Linked DNA regions of Homo sapiens: region 2 is linked to region 1. Evidence: fine-mapped expression QTL. A gene starts in region 1. The other region holds a variant in brackets. All regions are shown on one strand. Distances are between the middles of the regions.

Region 1 (11,145 bases):
TTGAAATTACCATCTTCATACAGACAAAAATGAACCATCAAACCACAGTGTTTATCTTTCAGCACATAAATTATTTCTAATTGCTATAATAAATGTGCTTTCATTTTTTGCATTGTGTGTGTGTGTGTGTCCCTAAAGCATAACCCTCTAACACTGCAGCTTACTATAATATTTCAAATGCAATAACATAGATAACAATGACATTTAACTTCTAAATCACTTTTACAGTTTATATTATGGAAAAAATTACTTATCATGTAAGTGGCTTAAAATTCTTAGTAACACCTATCATAATGATATTAATTATCCAACAACATATAAAAAGCAGTATTTCAGTTTTATCCTCCACATACTGGTTATGCTAGGTAAATATGAAAATTTTATCCAAGATTCAAGTAACATCAACACTGACTTTTTAAAAAGTAAGTTTAGGATTTAGCAAAGACTTGTTTTTAATAATAAAATGGATAGTATTACCAAATTTTAAAGCCAAATTATCAGCAATCTCTTTTTGACAAGATCTTGTGGAAGAGTAAACTGGTAAATCCATGAAGGCATACAAGGCTACAGAAACTCAGGGCTGTTGACCTTACTCTATGCCATACCGTGGTACTACAAATGACTGCAGAACTTGTTTCCAAGACCAAAACCTAACACAATTTATCCCTAAAATTCAGTTTGTATGTTTTAAAAATAATCTTTTTATGCTTAAGTCTCCAGCTATAAAGCAAATAAGATTAGAAAAGTATTAGAAAAATTTTCAGGAAACCCAAAATATAAGTTCCTTTGAAACAAAAACTACTCAATTTTACAAAGCCACCTTGTCTAAATCAAGTGATATTAAAGGTATAATTCATAGGAAGATAGCAAGGTTAAAAAGCAAGAAACAAAACAAAAAAGCAAAGAAAAAGAAAAAATTATGGATTCTAGAATACGGAGATAGATCCAGATTCTAACCATGGTTCCAGTACCAACGTTCTGGAAACTCTAGCAATTTAATTAAACTTTTTTTAGTTTAATAAGTAAATTTACTTATTTTCTTGATGTCTTCAGCTATAAAACAGTATTAATACTACTACCTAGAGGAAATAAAGGTTTTTAGGGCAAAACGAGACAACATTAGGGAAGAAGAGTCCATTAGAAGTTTCTTCCATGTCTATATTTTGTTATAATGAATATCGCTTGCAAAAAGCAGGACAGTGATAAGTCTCTAAAATGCTGTGTTACACAGCAATTCTGCGGCAAATGAAAGTGATTCCTTTATCATTTCCACTTAGAAAATTAATCCTGATTTCAGAGACCTCCAAAAAGAACAAACATTTTTCCACAATTTATATTAAAATTCTGTCAATGACTCCTTTACATATAACCTAAATTGCCTAAGCATTATGGCTCATTTGAAAGTTCTTATATACTTCAATCCAGAAAGCATATCCGCTTTATTCATTTCTCTATTTCTGTCCCCAGAGAAGTGCTGGAAGCACTGTGCATGAATACACTCCTTCATTCATTCAGCAAATATTTACTGAACCCTTACAATGTGCCAGGTACTGCGTAAGTAGTGGGGTAAAACATGACAAATGAGAGGGCCCTGCTCAGGGAGCTTATAGTCCAGTGAGGAGACAGTATTTGTCAAATAAATACAGAAATAATTAAGTTTCTATTATGATGATGCCACAAAGGAGTACAGAGTATGGTGAATACATGGCGGAAACCTATTCTGATTTTGGGAAGGCGGGCAAGGCTCCCCTGACGAACGATATTTAAATTGAGACGTGAAAACTGACTACCAGGTGGCCACATTTAGGTAGGCGTGAGGGGAACAGTCCAAGGAGTGAGACGGAATATGTAAAGGCCACCAAGTCAGGAAGCAGCTTATGTATGTAGTAACTGAAAGGCATGGTAAATGAGAAAGGCTGGAGATAAGGACGGAGAGCTGGATAGGAGAAGAGATAAATTTTTAGTGTTAAACAGAGTAAGAAGGTAATAGTATTTGAATATTTAAGTCACGTTAAGTCTTCTTCTCATGTAAATAATCTAAGGGAACTAAGTCTTTACTCCAAAATATTAAAGATCTGTAGTCAGAAGATCTCGATTTTGTCTTACTCCCACCAGTTACAAGTCACTTAACCAACTTGAGCCTCTTCATTCTCTTTGTAAATATTATCTTACCTACTCAGACTACAATAATAAACAGCCCCTATTCTTACAGACCTTACATCCTTAAGAGAAACAGACAGATGTATAATATACGGAAGACATCCCAAGTCCTCTAAGAAATAATGTCCAAAAGCTGACATAAGGCTCCTGCAAAGTTCAAAATGAGAAGAAATGCAGACACTGGTGAGCTGCAAACCACGTGTACACATAACTCTGTGAACTCCTAATTATCCAACGTGCAGAGATCTAAAGTGACAACAGTACCGCAGCATGTGACTGAAAGATGATAACAACAATACAAACATTAATCCACCATCCGAATAGAAGAAATATCAAAACTATAATTGGCCTCAGAGATAAAGAGTAGTGGCAGAAATGAACCAAGAACAAAATCTAAAACACACTGAACAAATGCATTACATTAACTAATTTCCAAAATTTCCTCATAGTTCAAAAGCTCTTTCCATAATGACAGAGTTACATGCCAAAGGTTAGAACTTATTTCATACCTCCTTCAACAAAAGGCAAATACCTACATTGTCATCTAGAAAACAGATTAATATTCTTGCTTTACCATCACTGACTCATGTTCAGTTTACGGTCTACTTACATCACTGCACCTTTCTTAATCCAGCACAAAGTCAGTTATCACCACATAATTTTCCATTTGTTTAACTGGGTCTTCCTTGTCTGTGTACTACATTACTTATGGTACATTATTCCTGATTTTACTTCATTCTATAGTATCATACTTTTTCTATTTTAAAAATCGTATTAATTTCCAGACCATCTTAATTTCAACCATCAGGGAAGATAATACCTCTGTTCCGAAAAAATGTTTTTCCATTAAAAAGTGAAGCACATTGTTGATAATATAGTAACTGCAGAGTACATTCAAAATTCAGCATAGTCTGATGATCAACTTATATATAAAACAGTAAGCTATGATTTATTACATGTTAAGAGTAAGCCATGATTTATTACATGCTAACCTGTATGGATATAAAGTTATCACAAATAAATTCTGCCATCAATGAACATACTCTAACAATTCTATTAAAAACTTATCCAATAATAATAGTCATGAGCTATAACTGGTCATAATCATTATAGAGGATAAGACTTGCATAAAGGCACTACTTTCTGCAAGATATGAACTATACGTGTACTGTTTTTTCATTCTTCAATGTAAAGTAAGAATGAATTGAAAGTCACAGTTGATGCTAAGAAAAATAAAAATATGCAAGAGCCCAATTTTATTATTTGCAGACACACACACAAATACAGCCCAGAGTCAAGAAAATGGGGGAAAAGTAAAGTCTCAAAAAAGACGATGTTACCTCCAAGAAATGCAAAATACCTTCTTTTCTAGTAATGGGCACACTAAACTCTCCTAACGCTACATTATTTGAAAAAAGTGTAGTTTTGTGAAAGAATTCCAATCCCACTATTATCAGTTTTACAAAATGAGAGTAAAAACAGTCCTAAGGTAGAAAAAGAAAAGAATATTCTTCTAAGGATGGGATATATTGTTTAACTGTTGTTCTCCCATCCTATTACCTACCCGTAAAAATGAACTGTGAGAGTAGAGTCTATCATTTAATACACCCCTAAAAAAAGGGGAAAAATCTGTAAAAGTTGAAACTGGCCATTTTTATTTTTTCCAAAAGGATCTTTCCTTTATTGAGGAATTTCACTCCGGTTCAAGAAACAACTTTTTATCTCACAATGGCTTCTTAGATATACTATATAAAATACATTTACTTTGTAACTTCCTCCACCCTTTTCAAAAAGCACAACCAACGTCCCTACTCTAAAGCTGGACTCGAACCGAACTAGATTCAGAAAGTCTGTCCCTACGTGTGTGACCTTGGGCACGTCATATAATCCCTCGGTTTCCTCATCAGCATCCCAAAATGAAAGCGCTCTGAAAGCAGTAAAGGAGTAAAAACATACCTTAGGTATGACACCTAAGAGGGTCAAGTCTTTCTGTTTAAGGCAAAATTATCTCCTTAGAGGGCCACATCATTAAACTGGAACTGAATCCGTAGACCCCAACATTTGTCTCTTCCTTCTTCCAGTGCTCCTCTTCCCTCAAAGGGCATAACCCGAGTCACCCCCAAGAGCCGACTCCCAAGCACCCTTTCCTTCCTCCTCCCTTTTCTCTTACTTACAAAGCAGGGGGAAAACAGCAGCCTCACCTCTCGGTCCGAAGCCACACCTTCAAAGGACCCCACCCCAGGCACATCCGCCCTGTCCCCTCTCCCGGGGCACCAGGGGCCAACCTCGCCCTTCCCCTCCCGCCCCCACCTAGAGGAGACTTCCTGGAGGCGTTCGGGCCCAAGCCGGCAGGCGGCATTTACAAACCCGCTTTACGCCACTCGCGTAGGGTAACCTCGCTTACGCCCGTAGGGCCCCGCTCTCAGCCCCGTCCGCTCCGCCTGCCAGAACCAAGCCCAAGTGCCTCAGCCATGGCCCCTGCGTGACCCTAGACCTCTTCTGCTCGGTGCAGAGCTACGGGGACTGGGACAGAACAGCTACACCTTACCAGCAACTGAGGCACTGACTTCACTTCCCACCTTGCAGCCCTCTTCAACTCCCGGATCAATTCACTCCGGCGACGCCGGAAGGACCCAAGAGGAACCAGGCGTTGTCCGGAATCCTGCCCAGCCGGAGTCGTGCAGAGGCTTATGGGGACTCGTAGTCCCGCTCGCCGGCGTTGTCCGCAATTCCTGCAATCGGAAGACTACACTTCCCGGCAGGCCATGCGGGGGATCCTGAGGCGATGGGTGGTGACACTTCTAGCCAATAGTAGGAGAATTCCCTGCCTTTGCGGGAGGAGGTGAGATGAAGAGAGATGGTGCACGGAAAGGAGAGGAAGGGCGGGGCAAGCCCTCACCTGCGCCAATCAGGGTGCGGAGTAGGCCCCGCAGGCGCCTCACCCATTGAGGGGGCGGGCTGACAGAGCAGAGGAAGGAAGGGGGTGAGGGGCCTGTGGTGGGGATCCTGGGGCTGTCGGGCTGAGTATGCCGTGTGGGTGGAGAGGAAGCCTCGGGGAAATCGCCCAGGTGAAGGGAGGGCTTGGTGTGGGGACTTGCACTGGGCAGAGGGGCAGCTTCCCTGAGAGCAGCTAAGCCCCAGGCACACCGGGCATCCGGACACACAGGTCGGGGAAGGATAGGCTGAGCCGGGGCTCCCAGCAGAGACGCCTGGGTGGGGCAGGAGGCCGCTCCAGGTGTGAGCCACAGAGGAGGGGAGAGGGACCCCCACGGGAGTGGAAGTGGCAGAGCAGCTGCAGAAGTGCAGGGAGCGGAAAGGTACCAGGGCAGCTGCTTTCCGCTGCCTCCGGTCCGGGCAGCTGCAGAAACAGCAGGGGGAGGAGCAACAGCTGCCAAATTCGCCAACTAGAGGAGGGAGAGGCGGAGCTTGGGTCCCTGTAGAAGCCAGAGGCGCAGTCTGGACTGTAGTTTCCCGGGAGAGACGAAAGCAGGAACGAGAGCGGAGCGGAGCACAGTCCGCCGAGCACAAGCTCCAGCATCCCGTCAGGGGTTGCAGGTGTGTGGGAGGTAAGCGTGGGTCCTTCTTCGGGGCGTCTGCACTGCCCTGGAGAAAACGTCTTCCAATAGGAATTACATCAAGACACAGCTAAAAGAGTCCGCGTTGGGTTAGGAAACCGGTGCAAAACCTCTCGGGTGAAAGATTTACATTTTTCGACTTTAAGGGCAAAAAAGCAAAAGGAAGCTTGACTCTGGGTATAAAGGGCGTGGTTAGTGTTTTTGGTTTGAGTTGCACCAGTAAAACTGTTCTGGGAGATCTGAAGATTGAGAAAAATCCTGCTAATTGAGGACGAGGTGGATGTTATCTGGTGGATGTTATAGGTGCGTAGCCTATAAAAAGCAAAAATTTTGCTATTGATATAGAATAACTTCTGAACTATTTCACTAGGAAAATAACTTTGCATTCTTCTTCAGTGTCTACCCTTTACGTTGGTTTATCAGATTGTCCTGCTACCGACCTGTTATCCAGGGTGGTTATTTTGCAGTTTCCTAGAATTGCAAGAAATCCGTATTAAAGAAGCAAGTGCAGGCAGGAATAGTCAGGATAGGATGGGCTCTGACTTAATCTATCAAAAGTATAACTTTTGCCAGCAATAATGTAAAAATGAATTTTAATGAATGGATAGTTAGCTTTCTTCCCAGTGGCTCTGGAATATTGGAACAAAGACCTGGATTCAGCCTACAATGGAAACATATGGTGTACCTCACTGCTGCTCGTTAGTTTCTCATTTGTGTCCGATAATATGTGTACATTTTAAAAACGAGTACATGGAAAGCTGTGTGGGAATCTTTTCTCTGGGTAGAGAGTATGTGCTGAAGGACTACCCTTAATATGTGTTATGATAGTGGGTTCAGTTTAAAACACATGTAGTGTCATAAAATAATAGTTTATTCTCGGTATTAAACTATATGTGCATTCAAAGCAACGTTAATTGTAATACCTATGGATGGAAATAAGTTGTAATGCTGGGTAAAGATGAAAGTCTCACCTACCTTTGTGTAATTATGACAAAATTACAGCCTTTTATTTTTAGAGAAGTAGTAAGAAGCTATTTTCCTAGTTCATTTTCATTTTGTTACAGAGGTTCCCAGATTACATGGCTTTTAATCATAGTAGCATATTGCAGCAAATTTTGCTCTGAAATGCTTTCATTGTGACAGTTGCATATTTCAGAGTCTGTCTCAATACTTTATGTTTTTTTTTAATAACCAGGGTCAATAAAATGGAGTAATTGTCTTGTTTTCTCCTATTTCTATGCTTTCCTGAGTTCTCGGGATTTTAAATTTTATTTTTGTAATGCATCCCAAATTTCTTTTTGAAAAGAAATGGCTCAAATGAATTCTCTTCCCAGATTAAAGTTCAGTCCTACTGAGTGCTACTACCGATAAGCCTAAGTGACTTTTCAGTGTGTATACTCTTCCCTCCCACACTCTCACATACCATAGAAATATATAGACAGATAGATCATAGAAAAACAGCTGCTTTTTAATTACCCCTAAGCAAATCAGCTAAGTATCAAAAACAGCAAAGAGCTTAGAAGAAAGAAAAAGCAACAGTAGCTGCTAAACTTAACCACTATAAGGATCAGGTTTTATCTTTGCTACAGCACTGGAGAATCTATTAATTCACATAGCTGATATGGCCCTGTGAAAATGATTTTGGGGGTAAAAAAAAAAGTGGGTATTAGGGTGACACATGGAAAAGACTGTGTTTGCCCTTGTTATTTGTGATTAAGTGGATTGTCTTGAATCAGTCTTAGATTCTTTCTCAGACCCTACTACTAATTCATTTTGTAAAACTGAATAATTGCTGTCGCTGGGTTATTTCCCCTATGTAATAATTATAATACTACCAATGAAATTCTTTCCGAGCCTTTATTAAAAGATCTGTTTGAAAGAGTTTTATTGGGAAACAGTTAATAAGCAAGCAAATGGATAGAAGATAAATATCTAAACAGTTGAAATTAAGATATACTTTGAATCTCAGCTCTTTATAGGTCTTCTGCTCTGAGACACGGTAAAGGATAGAATCTGATTAGGAATGAATGAGTTTGTGGTATTAAAGTACTGATTTTTTTCACCTGTTTCCAAGATTTGGATCCTTTTTACTGTGTCAGTAAAAGAGATTGGGTTTCAATATCATTTGAAAAAAGACCATGTTTTTATATGAGAGAATATCATTGGAAATATATGGCATTTATTTTTTACCTTGCACTCTTGATTCATGTTAGTTAATATTCACATTCAATCTCAGGTAATCTGAAGATTTTTCTTGATTGGTGTTGAAAACGTTCGTTATATGGCAGTTTATAATTCTGTGTAAAATGCTACCCATGTTATAAGCATATTACTTATTTTGCTCTTTAATTTTACTATTTGTGTATGGCTATCAGTGAATATGTATGATGAGAAAGGAAAAGCAACAGAGTGCAGAATGTCTCTCTTGAATGGAAATTGCTCTGGGGATGATTGTTCTTTAGCCAAAAACCTTGGTTAATTTCAAATTACCATATCCTTTGGTCTTTTCTTTAGAGTTCTGATTCTAAGCCTTTTGAGTAAAAATAAGTTAGCATGGATTTCTTTTTAACAGGAAGATTCACTGATGCATGCAGCACAAAAGAGCAAGACTTAAAGGTTCAAGATCAAATGGTTTTGGTAAAGAAGGATACAGGGGAATAGATATAAAGAAAACTACTTGAGAAACACACCTTTAGCAAAAGAGAAAAAAGATTTTATATTTTTTGTTAAATTCCTATAATCCATGATTCCATGACCTTTTCTCCCCCAGTCATTAATTTGTAGAGGCCTGTATTCATACTGGGATACATTACTTTTCTAAGTAAAATTGAATATTCAAAATCCAATGAATACCAGTCTGATTCCAGTTAAAATGGCAATTTTTACTGGAATAAATTTTGGATGATTAACCTTCCTTTTTTATGCTTTTATAACCCATAAATATTCAAAATCTAATGAATACCAGTCTGATTCCAGTCAATTGCCATTTTAACTGGAATCAAACTGGTATTCATTAGATTTTGAATATTCATGGATTATTAACCATAAAAATCCTACCTGTATACACTAACTTCTAAGTGAAACATTATTTGGACAAAATATCAAAAAGTAAATACCTAAACTGATGTTTTGCCCCTTTAAAATAATAAAGGTACTTGAACCAGACACTAAGATGAGCAAGAGCCCATTTATTTAATTAAGCAAATTCCAAAGGTTAAACACTGCTTTTGGGATCAGAATTAACGTACACAAATAAGGGAGAGATTTTTTTGTTGTTTCTTTTTTTTTTTTTTTTTTAAATCTTAAACCTGTAAGAATTTAGTCTTTAAAATTTGGAAGGTGTGTTTTAAGTAACTACGTTATTAACTCTTAGAGACCATGTACTTCTTTTCTATCTCCTGTTAGTCCTGAGCACTTTATGTCATATTCAGCATAAAGAAATTGAGTAACCAGTTACTGAATTAGAACCATTGGACATTGGACAATACTTCTGTAATGCACACATTGAGACAGTTTGCGCTTTGATAGACAGAGTCAGCTGACCTCACAGAATGATTGCTTACACATTAGTCCTTCTGAGAATGTCTTTATGCTAGTTTGCCTTTGCAAAAGTGTTGATTGAGCACAATTGGATTCACACTGTGTGCGCTGCAAATACATTACAGATTTGAGTGCCAGCATTTCTAAATTCATCTCAGAGATAGGATATATAGGCGAGGGTAAAGGAGTCTGCAACTGGTGGCACTTAAGGTCTTAATTTCACAGACAGAAAAACCCAGGGCTCAACCACCATTTAACCTCAAGGCCCTGGAGTTATACCTTTGTTGAAGCTTATCTGTAGAAACCATATTTCATTCTATAAAAACTGAATTTGCTCTTCTGTTTTTCTAATTATTTCTTCCAAAAAAAAAATAGACTGATTTTGTTTAAGCATGTGTGGAGTTGGTCATTAGTTGTTTTTTGCATTTGACCTAGAAACAAATTAATCTGATTGGTGTTAGAATTAAGAATCTAATGTAATTTTTACTTCATTATGATAAGACCTATACAATTCTAGTTAATTGTATATAGTTTTTTAGTAGTAAAATTAATTGTAGCACATATTTAACTATCTTCTGTTTACTTTTACCTTCATGTTGATTTATATAAATTGGCTTGCTTAGAACTGATAATTAACCTGCCTTTTTCTTTTTTTTTTTGCCGCCTTTTTTTTTTTCTGAGACAGGGTCTGACTCTGTCGCCCAGGCTGGAATGCAGTGACCTGATCATAGTTCACTGTAACCTTGAACTCCTGGGCTCAAGCACTCCTCACACCGCAGACTCCCCAGTAGCTAAGACTACAGGCAAGAACCACCATGCTCAGCTAATTTTAACTTTTTATAGAGATAAGGGTCTCACTGTGTTGCCCAGGTTGGTCCAAACTCCTGACCTCAAACAATTCTCTCACCTTGGTCTCCCAAAGAATTGGGATTACAGGTGTGAACCACCATGCCTTGCTGATATTATTCTTAATGATTAGCACTGTGCCTTGTGTAGAGTAAACTTAGTTCATACTATCTTTCTCACCAGATACTTAGTATCTTTAGAGCTAACTCTGAGTTTCATTGACGTTTGTATTCATTTTGAGAATCCTTTTACATAGTTCATACTTGGTAAGTAGTAACAATTTGGATAACTATTTGGTAATCTATAATGAAACATCATTTTGCAAACAAATACAACTAGAAAAATGACTTTTTCTTAGACATCTGTGTTAGTACCAAATTCAGCCCTCTGCCAACAACGGTTGCTTATATTACAGCTAAATATAAATATTGCTATCTTGTTGGATTTCTAAATGAGTAGAACAAATTTTGTTATTAACTGCAAACTTGCGCGCGCGCTTGTGTGCGTGTGTGTGTGCGTGCATGGGCGCATGCTTCAGACATGAATTTATTCATTAGATGCTATTTGGGGTTTATGTGGTCCTTTTCTCTCCTTGCCTCTAGAACTCTGCTGATTTAAAGATGTGCTTTTATGTAATACCTCCCCTCCCCTACACGATTTCCATTACTTTTTTCTTAACAAATAGAGAAAAATAAATAGATGAATGTAATATGAGGCCTTAACTAAAGTTTAACTGGCTGTAAATGTTCCATTTTCAGTGAAAAGGCTGCATTGAGAGACCTTAGTAAAGCTTACATTGTACCTGAATTATACAGGTATTTGTCATCTCTGAGCCATCATGAAGAACGAATGAGTTTTGAGACTTGGCATTGACAGTGCTCAGTGTTGGTCTTCTGTGTATAGCTTGGTGGTGGAAGCTTACAGGGTACCTTCAGTTTCAGCCACTGCTTTGAGGCCCCCTTCTGGTTCTGCCTGGGAAAGGAGACTTCTGAGCTCCTCACAGCTCTTAATGTGGGAAGGAAAA
Region 2 (11,145 bases), 150 kb before region 1:
AACATTTTTTATTATCTTTTCTTTGTTATATGCATTGCAAATATTTTGCCTCTTTAGAGCACACATTTTTAAATTTTGTTTTTTTCATTCAAAAGTTTTAAATATTTATAATATTGAGTCTAAGAAATGCTTTCCTTAGATAAATGGCATGATCAGATATTGCACAAAAATCAAGAACTATAAATGGCCAATAAATATTTGCAAAAGAAATTCACCCTAGTTTTTGTTCATCAGGTTCACACACAAAAATGAACACATTTTCACTGCTGACAAGAATATGAGAAAACAGACACTTTCATATACCCCTGATGAGCATGCCTATTGGTACAACACTTCTTCACTGTAATAGGCAATATTTATGTAAAGCCTTTGAGATCTAATAGCATAACTTCTAGAAACTTATTACAAAAACATTAACCTAAGAGGTCTTAAAAGGGTGCGTGTGTGTGTGTGTGTGTGTGTGTGTGTGTGTGTGTGTGTGTCATGGCTAACAAAGATAAACAACTTAGAAACAATATCTCCTTTAATCAACAGGTGATTAAGTAGTTAAATTATGGCCATCCATACTAAGAATTGCTGTATAGCCAAAAAATACAGATATATGTATATCTATGTGTCTATCTATAAAGATCTTCAAGAGATACTGTTTAGGAAAAAGCAAATTGTAGAAAAAATATGTGTCATATGATACCATTTACATAAAAACTAATAATAAATACTACCCTGTATTTGTTCACACTCAAAGGATAATATATATAATAACATTAAATAAAGTTGTATTTTGTTATAATGACATATTATTATAATACATTATTATGTATAACATAGTAAGTATATAGCAAAACAATATAAGAAGATACACGTCTAGGGTTGATGATAGTTATTCCTTGGGAAAGAAATGGATTTGAAGGGGAAATGATCATAAGGAATATTTACTTTTTGCACTACATGCTTCCTCATCATTTGCAATTTTTATAGGAGGGCATTAATCCATTTACCGGCGTACTTTAAATGAAAATCCTTTGTTTCTGGATGGATAGATGGAAGTCGGGATGGGGAACAGTGTGGAAAAAAAGAAAAGAAGATAAATGGTAAGACAAAATTCTGATTGTATTGTTCTTACCAACCATAGGTCTACAATATAGAAGCCAGGTTCTGAGAAAAATCAGAACCTCAAACAAAGGATTAAGCCACAAACTGATTTGCTTCTGCTGACCAAATCAGGATTAGTGGCCTCGGGGAGAATAGTTAGGAGTAATGAAAAAGCTGAATTAGGCCCACAGGCTGAATGTCAGTCTCCATCAGAGAGTTTGACATAGGCTTCAAAAATCTTTTTTACTCCCCATGGTGGTTCCTCTCCAAATGACTAAGTTACTTGCCCTCAACAGGGCCTTACCACCAGTGACTGCCATCTCAAGAGAATCAGTTTAGGAGTTCAAAGCAAAATACGATTGAACTCTTTAATCACCACTGGAAAATAGCAATAGAGAAGATTTCCAAAAACGAAATGAAGTTTCAGATCATTTTTGGAGAAAATTTTGTAGATTTAAATTGCTTTGTCTATAGATCTTCTAATTCAGCAATTCATTGACCAAAACATGTTTCAATCAAAAGCTCTTGAAAACATAATGTGTTTTCATTTTTTCTAACTTAACCCCAGTCCTATAAAATATCCAAAAGACTTTGACAGCAATAAAGCAGAGGCTTACCCTGGTGGCAGAATGCATTGTTGTTTGTTGTAAAGACGTAAAGACTGAGATCACGATGCATTTATTAAAGTGAAATAGATTTAGACTAACATGAAAGACAACATGACAAGCTTCATTATAATGTAATGCAAACAAAACAAAAATAGAAAGATAAATTGTTTTTGGAAGAGGCCAGGTAGTCTTAGCATTGATGATAGCTGTACATAATCACCTGTGACTCTAAAGACATTTTTTCACTTGCTTTTACGTTATAAAACCTCTCGGGGAAGTCTTAATGACAAAATATCTGATACTTGTTTCATATTTATATTTGATAAAGATTCTCTTATTTAACTACAATTTATTGGGGACCTGGTATATATATGGTATAATTCCAGAAAGACATTGCCCCTAACCTTATGAATCCTATCATTTAGTTGATAGTTATACTGTTTCATATATTATATTTAACATGTATTTAATACATTAATATTTTCTAGGTCTTGGGAAACACAAAAATAAATTCAACAAATAATCTTTACCTTCAAGCAGTCAGAATCTAATGAAAAATACAATATACATATACAATGCTCCGGTATCCAAATCAGATTGTGTTAAATTCAATAATGGAAATGAAACAAAGTGCTAAAAGATCTCAAAAAGTAGGCCAGCTAAATCTAACTAGGGCATCATAAAAGGTTTCACTCAAGTTTTTTGATACTTTAGACTCAAAGTAATATGTCTTCACTTCAAGCTGTCAACATATAACTATTGAATAAGCACTACAAGGTGCCAAGCACTGTGATAAATACCAAGAATACAAGCTGAAAAGACACTGACCTTTTTTTTCACTTTTTCTTTTTTGAGACAGGGTCCCTCTCTGTCACCCAGGCTGGAGTGCAATGGCATGATCACGCCTCACTGCAGCCTCAGCCTACCAGGCTTAGATGATTGCCCTACCTCAGCCTTTCGGGTAGCTGGGACTACAGGTGTGCGCCACCATGCCCACTAATTTTTGTATTTTTTGTAGAGATGGGTTTTTCCATGTTGCCTAGGCTGATCTTGAACTCCTGGGCTTAAGTGATCCACCCACCTCAGCTTCCCAAAGTGTTGGTATTACAAGCGTGAGGCACCACACGAGCCCTCTTTTTCATTTTTTCTAATTAATTTTTTTATTTTGGTGGGTACAGAGTAGGTGTATATATTTATTGATTACATGAGATATTCTGATACAGATATACATTGCGTAATAATCACATCAGGGTAAATGGAGTAGCTATCACCTCAAGCATTTATCCTGTGTGTTACAAGCAATCCAATTATATTATGTTAGATATTGTAAATGTACAATTAAACTATTTTTTACTATAGTCACTCTGTTGTGCTAGCAAATACTAGGTCCTCTTAATTCTTTCTATTTTTTATACCCATTAACCATACCCACTTCCTCTCCAACCTCCCCCACCACTACCCTTCCCAGCCTCTAATAACCATTCTTCTTCTATCTCCATCAGTTCAATTGTTTTAATTTTTAGCTCCCACAAATAAGTGAGAACACCTAAAGTTTGTCTTTCTCTAACTGGCTTATTTCACTCAGCATAATGACCTCCAGTTCCAACCATGTTATTGCAAGTGACAGGATCTTACTCTTTTTTATGACTGAGTAGTACTCTACTGTTTGTAAATACCACATTTTCTTAATCCATTTATCTTTTGATGGACACTTGGGTTGCTTCCTAATCTTGGCTATTGTTAACAGTGCTGCAACAAACATGGAAGTGCAGATATCTATACGATATACTGATTTCTTTTCTTTGGGGTATATACCTAGTAGTGGGAATGCTGGATCATACGGCAGCTCAATTTTTAGCTCTATTACAGTGGTTTTACCAATTTACATTCCTACCAACAATGCATGAGAATACCCTTTTATCCACATCCTCACCAGCATTTGTTATTGCTTGTCTTTTGGATATAAGCCATTTTTAACTGGGGTAACATTGTAAATTTGATATCTCATTGTAATTTTGATTTGCATTTCTCTGATAATAAATAATATCGAGCACCTTTTCATATGCCTGTTTGCCATTTGTCTTTTTTTGAGAAATGTCTGTTCAGGTATTTAGCCCATTTTTAATCAGATTGTTAGATTTTTTTTCCTAGAATTGTTTGAGCTCCTTGTATATTCTGGTTATTAATCCCTTGTCAGATGGATAGTTTGTAAATATTTTCTCCCGTTCTGTGGGTTGTTTCTTCACTTTATTGATTGTATACTTTGCTGCGCAGAAGCATTTTAACTTAATGTGATCCCACTCATCCATTTTTTCTTCAGTTGCCTGTGCTTGTGGGGTATTGCTCAAGAAATTTTTGCCTAGTCCAATATTCTGGACAGTTTCTCCAATGTTTTTATTTAGCAGATTCATAGTTTGAGGTATTAGATTTAAATCTATAATCAATTTGGATTTAATTTTTGTATATGACAAGATTTAGGTGTCTAATATTATCTTCTGCATATAGATATTCAATTTACCCAGCACCATTTATTGAAGAAACTGTCTTTTCCTCAATATATGTTCTTGGCACCACTGTCTAAAATGAATTCACTGTAGATGTATGGATTTATTTCTGGATTCTCCATTCTATTCCACTGGTCTATGTGTTTGTTTTTATGCCAGTGTCATGACGTTTTGGTTACTGTAGCTCCATAGTATAATTTGAAGTCAGTTAGTGTGATTCCTTCACTTTTATTCTGTTTGCTTAGGATAGCCTTGGCTATTCTGGGTCTTCTGTGATTCCACATAAATTTTAGGATTGTTTTTCCTATTTCTATGAAGAATGTCATTGGTATTTTGATAGGGATTGCATTAAATCTGTATATTGCTTTTGGTAATATGGACATTTTAACAATATTTATTCTTCCAGACCATGAACATGGAATATCTTTCCATTTTTGTAGCTTCTTCAATGTCTTGCATTAATGTTTTATACTTTTCATCATACAAATCCTTCACTCTTTTGGTTAAGTTTATTCCTAGATATTTAATTTTATTTGTAGCTATTCTAAACGGGATTATTTTCTTGATTTTCAGATTGTTGTTGGCATATAGAAATGCAACTGATTATGTTGATTTTGTATCCTGCTACTTTACTGAATTTGCTTACCATTCTAATGTTCTTTGGTGGAGTGGTTTTTCCAAATACAAGATGTTATTATCTGCAAATAAGGATAATGTGCTTTCTTCATTTCCAATTTGGATGCCCTTTTTATATTTCTCTTGTCTGATTATTCTAGCTAGGACTTACAGTACTATATTGAATAACATAGTGGGCATTCTTCAGATCTTAGATGGGAGGCTTTCAACTTTCTCCCATTTCAATACGATATTAGCTGTTGGTCTTTTATATATGGCTTTTATTATATTGAGTTATGTTTCTTCTATATCAAAACTTTTTGAGTTTTTTAAATCATGAAGAGATGTGGAATTTTATCAAATGCTTTTTCAGAATCAATTGGAACGATTATTTAGTTTTTGTCCTTCATTCC[A/G]TTGACATCATGTATCAAATTGATTGATTTGCATATGTGGAACCATTCTTGCAACCTTGGGATAAATCCCACTTGGTCATAATGAATGATTTTTTAAATGTGTTGTTGAATTTGAATTGGTAGTATTTTGTTGAGGATTTTTGCATCAATGTTTATGAGGGCTATCTGCCTGTGGTTTTCTTTTCTGATGTGTCTGTGTCTGGTTTCGGTATCAGGGTAATAATGGTTTTGTAGAATGAGTTTGGAAGTATTCCTTCCTCCTTTACTTTGTGGAGTAGTTTGAGTAGGATTGGTACCAGTTCTTCTTTTAATGTTTGGTAAAATTCAGCAGCAAAGCCCTTGGGTCCTGGGCTTTTTGTTGTTGAGAGGCTTTTAACTATGGCTTCAGTCTCATTACTTGTTATTAGTCTGTTCAGGTTTTGAAAATTTTTATGGTTCAATCTTGGTAGTTCGTATATGTCTAGGAATTTATCCATTTCTTCCAGATTTGTCAAGTTATTAACATATAGTGGCTCATAGTAGCCATTAATAATCATTTGAATTTCAGTGGTGTCAGTAATAATATATCCTTTTTCATCTGTACTTTTATATTTTATTTGGGTTTTCTCTCTTTTTTTTCTGGCTAGAAAGTTAGTCTGGCTAAGTTAGTCTGGCTAAAGTTTTGTCAATTTTGTTTATCTTTTCCAAAACCAACTTTTCATTTCATTGATCTTTGTATTCTTTCTTCATTTCAACTTCATTTATCTCTGCTCTGATCTTTATTTTTTCTTCTACAGATTTGGGGTTTGGTTTGTTTTTTGAATTCTTTAAGAGGCACCATTAGGTTGTTTATTTGAAGTTTTTTCTCTTTTTTGATGACAGCTGTAAACTTCTCTTTTAGTACTCCTCTTACTGTATCCCATAGGTTTTGGTATGCCATGTTTCCATTGTCATTTGTTTCAAGTAATTTTTCAATTTCCTTCTCAGTTTCTTTATTGACACACTGGTCATTCAGGAGAATATTGTTTAATTTCCATGTATTTGTACAATTTTCAAAATTACTCTTGTTATTGATGTCTAGTTTTAGTACCTTGTGATTAGAGAAGATGCTTGATATTATTTAAATTTTTTGAATGTTTTAAGACTTGTTTCATGACCTAACATATGGTCTATCTCTGAGAATGATTCATGTAGTCAGAAAAAGATTTTGTATTCTTCAGCAGTTGGATGAAATGTTCTATAAATATCTATTAGGTCCATTTCTTCTATAGTGCAAAGTCTGATGTTTCTTTGTTGATTTTCTGTCTGGAAGATCTTCTCAATGCTGAAAAACAGGTGTTGATGTCTCCAGCTATTGTTGTATTGTGGTCTATCTCTCTATTTAAGTCTAATAAAATTTGCTTTATATATCTGGGTGCTCCCGTTTTGGGTACACATATATTTACAATTGTTATATTCTCTTGCTGAACTAATTCATTTATCATTATATAATGATTTCTTTGTCCCTTATAGGTTTGGCCTGAAATCTATTTTGTCTGATATGAATATAGGGACTCCTGTTCTTCCATTCTGGCATGGAATATCATTTTTCCTTCCTTTATTTTCAGTCAGTGTGTGTCTTTATAGGTTAAGTGTCTTTCTTGTAGGCAATAGATAATTGGGTCTTGTTTTTTTTTATCCAATCACTCTGCTATGTCGTTTGATTGGAGAGTTTAGTCCATTAACATTCAATGCTATTATTGACAAGTAAAGACTTACTTCTGCCATTTTGTTATTTGTTTTCTGGTTGTCTTCTGGTCTTCTCTTCCTTCTTTCTTTCCTTCCTGTCTTCCTTATAGTAAAGGTGATTGTCACTGGTCATATGATTTAGTTTCTTGCTTTGTATTTTTTGTTCATTCCTTGTATGTTTTTTAGTTTGAGGTTACCATGAGGCTTGAAAATACTATCTTATAATCCGTTATTTTAAACTGATAGCAACTTAACACTATTCGTATAAACAAACCAACAAGCAAAAAGAAAACTAATAAAGACCCTATACCTTAACTTCATGCTCCTTAACTTTTTAACTTTCTGTTGTTTCTATTTATATCTTATTGTACTGTCTATGTCTTGAAAAGTTATTGTAGTTATTTTTGATTAGTTCATCATTTAATCTTTCTACTTCAGATAACAATAGCTTACACAGCACAGTTACAGGGTTATATTCTGTGGTTTTTTTGTGTACTTACTATTACCACTGAGTTTTGTACCGTTAGATGATTTCTTTTTCTTTTTCTTTTTTTTTTTTTTTTGAGATGGAGTCTCACTCTGTCGCCAAGCTGGAGTGCAATAGCACCATCTCAGCTCACTGAAACCTCTACCTCCTGGGTTCAAGAGATTCTCCTGCCTCAGCTTCCTGAGTAGCTGGGACTACAGGTGCACACCACCACGCCCAGCTAATTTTTGTATTTTTAGTAGAGATGGGGTTTCACCATGTTGGGCAGGACGGTCTCCATCTTTTGCCCTCACGATCCTCCCACGTCAGTCTCCCAAAGTGCTGGGATTACAGGCATGAGCGACTGCTCCTAGCCAGATGATTTCTTATTGCTAATTAACATTCCTTTCTTTCAGATTGAAGAACTCCCTCTAGCACTTCTTGTAGGAAGGTCTGGTATTGATGAAATCCTTCAGCTTTTGTTTGTCTGGTAAGGTCTTTATTTCTCCATGTTTGAAGGATATTTTTGCAAGATATAGTTATTTTCCTTCAGAACTTTAAATATGCTATTCTCTCCTGGCCTGTAAGATTTCCCTGAAAATTTTGCTGCCAGACATATTGAAGCTCTATTTTATGTTATTTGTTTCTTTTCTCTTACTGCCCTTAGGATTCTTTCTTTATCCTTGACCTTTGGGAGTTTGATTATTAAATGTCTCAAGTTAGTATTCTTTGGGTGAAATCAGCTTGGTGTTCTATAGCCTTCTTGTATTTGGACATTGATATGTTTCGCTAGGTTTAGGAAGTTCTCTGTTATTATCCCTTTGAATAAACTTTCTACCTTGTTTCTCTCTCAACTTCCTCTTTAAGTCCAATAACTCTTAGATTTGCCTTGTTGAGACTGTTTTCTAGATCTTGAAGGTGTGCTTCATTCATTTTCATTCTTTTTTCTTTTGCCTCCTCTGACTGCATTTCTAAATATCCTGTCTTCAAGCTCACTAATTCCTTCTTCTGCTTGATTGATTCTGCTATTAAAACACTGACACATTCTTCAGTTTGTCAATTCCATTTTTCAACTTTAGAATTTCTGCTTGATTTTTTTAACAATGTTAATGTCTTTGTTAAATTTATCTGATAGAATTCTGAATTCCTTCTCTGTGTTATCTTGAATATCTTTGAGTTTTCTCAACACAGCTATTTTGAATTCTCCATCTGAATGGTCACATATCTCTGTTTCTCCAGGATGTGTTATTGTGCCTTATTTAGTTCATTTAGTGAGGTCATGTTTTCCTGGATGGTGTTGGTGTTAGTAGCTGTTCTTTGGTGTCTGGGCATTGAAGAGTTAGGTGTTTATTGTAGTCTTCACTGTCTTGGCTTATTGGTAGCTATCTGATATGGTTGGCTCTGTGTTCCCACCCAAATCTCATCTCAAATTGTAATCCCCATGTGCTGAGGGAAGGACCTAGTTGTAGGTGACTGGATCATGGGGGAGGTTCCCCCATGCTGTTCTCATGATAGTGAGGGAATTGTCACAAGATCTGATGGTTTAAAAGTGTGCGGTGGTTCCCCTCTCTCGTTCTGCCTCTCCTGCTACCATGTAAGATGTGCCTTGCTTCCCCTTCACCTTCTTCCATGATTTTAGTTTCCTGAAGTCTCCCCAGCCATGAGCAACTATGAGCCAATGAAACCTCTTTCCTTTATAAGTTACCCAGTCTCAGGTACTTCCTTATAGCCATGTGAGAACAAACTAATACAGAAAATTGGCACTGGGAAAGTGGAGTGCTGCTATAAAGATACCTGGAAATGTGGAAGCAACATTGGAACTGGGTAACGGGCAAAAGTTGGAAAAGTTTGAAGGGCTCATAAGAAGACAGGAGAATGTGGAAACATTTGGGACTTCTTAGAGACTTGTCAAATTGTTTTGACCAAAATGTTCATAGTGATATGGGCAATGAAGTTCATGCTGAGGTGGTCTCAGATGGAGATGAGGACCTTACTGGGAACCGGAGCAAAGGTCAAACTTCCTATTCTTTACCAAAGACACTGGTGGCATTTTGCCCCTGCCCTAGATACCTGTAGAAATTTGAACTTGAGAGAGATGATTTAGGGTATCTGGCAGAAGACATTTCAAAGCAGTAAAGCATTCAAGATGTGACCTGGCTTTTTCTGAAAGCATACAGTCATATTCATTCCAAAGAGATAGTCTGAAGTTGGAAATTATGTTTAAAGGGAAGCAGAACATAAAAGTTTGGAAAATTTGCAACCTAATCATGTGGTAGAAAAGCAAAACCCGGCCTTTGACAAAATTCAACAACCCTTCATGCTAAAAACTCTCAATAAAGTAGGTATTGATGGGACATATCTCAAAATAATAAGAGCTATCTATGACAAACCCACAGCCAATATCATACTGAATGGGCAAAAACTGGAAGCATTCCCTTTGAAAACTGGCACAAGACAGGGATGCCCTCTCTCACCACTCCTATTCAACATAGTGTTGGAAGTTCTGGCCAGGGCAATTAGGCAGGAGAAGGAAATAAAGGGTATTCAATTAGGAAAAGAGGAAGTCAAATTGTCCCTCTTTGCAGACGACATGATTGTATATCTAGAAAACCCCATTGTCTCAGCCCAAAATCTCCTTAAGCTGATAAGCAACTTCAGCAAAGTCTCAGGATACAAAATCAATGTACAAAAATCACAAGCATTCTTATACACCAACAACAGACAAACAGAGAGCCAAATCATGAGTGAACTCCCATTCACAATTGCTTCAAAGAGAATAAAATACTTAGGAATCTAACTTACAAGGGATGTGAAGGACCTCTTCAAGGAGAACTACAAACCACTGCTCAACAAAATAAAAGAGGATACAAACAAATGGAAGAATATTCCACGCTCATGGGTAGGAAGAATCAATATCGTGAAAATGGCCATACTGCCCAAGATAATTTACAGATTCAATGCCATCCCCATCAAGCTACCAATGACTTTCCTCACAGAATTGGAAAAAACTACTTTAAAGTTCATATGGAACCAAAAAAGAGCCCGCATTGCCAAGTCAGTCCTAAGCCAAAAGAACAAATCTGGAGGCATCACACTACCTGACTTCAAACTATACTACAAGGCTACAGTAACCAAAACAACATGGTACTGGTACCAAAACAGAGATATAGATCAATGGAACAGAACAAAGCCCTCAGAAATAACATTGCATATCTACAACTATCTGATCTTTGACAAACCTGAGAAAAACAAGCAATGGGGAAAGGATTCCCTATTTAATAAATGGTGCTGGGGAAATTGGCTAGCCATATGTAGAAAGCTGAAACTGGATCCCTTCCTTACACCTTATACAAAAATCAATTCAAGATGGATTAAAGACTTAAACGTCAGACCTAAAACCATAAAAACCCTAGAAGAAAACCTAGGCATTACCATTCAGGACATAGGCATGGGCAAGGACTTCATGTCTAAAACACCAAAAGCAATGGCAACAAAAGCCAAGATTGACAAATGGGATCTAATTAAACTAAAGAGCTTCTGCACAGCAAAAGAAACTACCATCAGAGTGAACAGGCAACCTACAAAATGGGAGAAAATTTTCGCAACCTACTCATCTGACAAAGGGCTAATATCCAGAATCTACAATGAACTCAAACAAATTTACAAGAAAAAAACAAACAACCCCATCAAAAAGTGGGCGAAGGACATGAACAGACACTTCTCAAAAGAAGACATTTATG

The links. PIP is the estimated chance that this variant, and not a neighbour inherited with it, causes the effect.
Region 2: its variant is the best candidate, but not a certain one, in a credible set for the expression of SERPINI1 in lung (TOPMed, PIP 0.53).

What each region holds. Positions count from the first base shown.
Region 1 is chr3:167,730,098-167,741,242 of GRCh38, forward strand. SERPINI1 (serpin family I member 1) reads left to right here and starts at 5,624. Exons shown (of 9, transcript NM_001122752.2): 1 at 5,624-5,726. It overlaps PDCD10 (programmed cell death 10), which reads right to left and starts at 4,795. Exons shown (of 9, transcript NM_007217.4): 1 at 4,565-4,795; 2 at 4,117-4,253. RefSeq lists a silencer at 4,427-4,556 and an enhancer at 4,607-5,046.
Region 2 is chr3:167,584,952-167,596,096 of GRCh38, forward strand. All of the region lies in intron 7 of WDR49 (WD repeat domain 49), which reads right to left. Among named protein-coding and RNA genes, the nearest start is that of WDR49, 63 kb to the right of the region's middle. RefSeq lists an enhancer at 8,778-8,947. The variant A/G (reference allele first, on the strand shown) is at 5,233.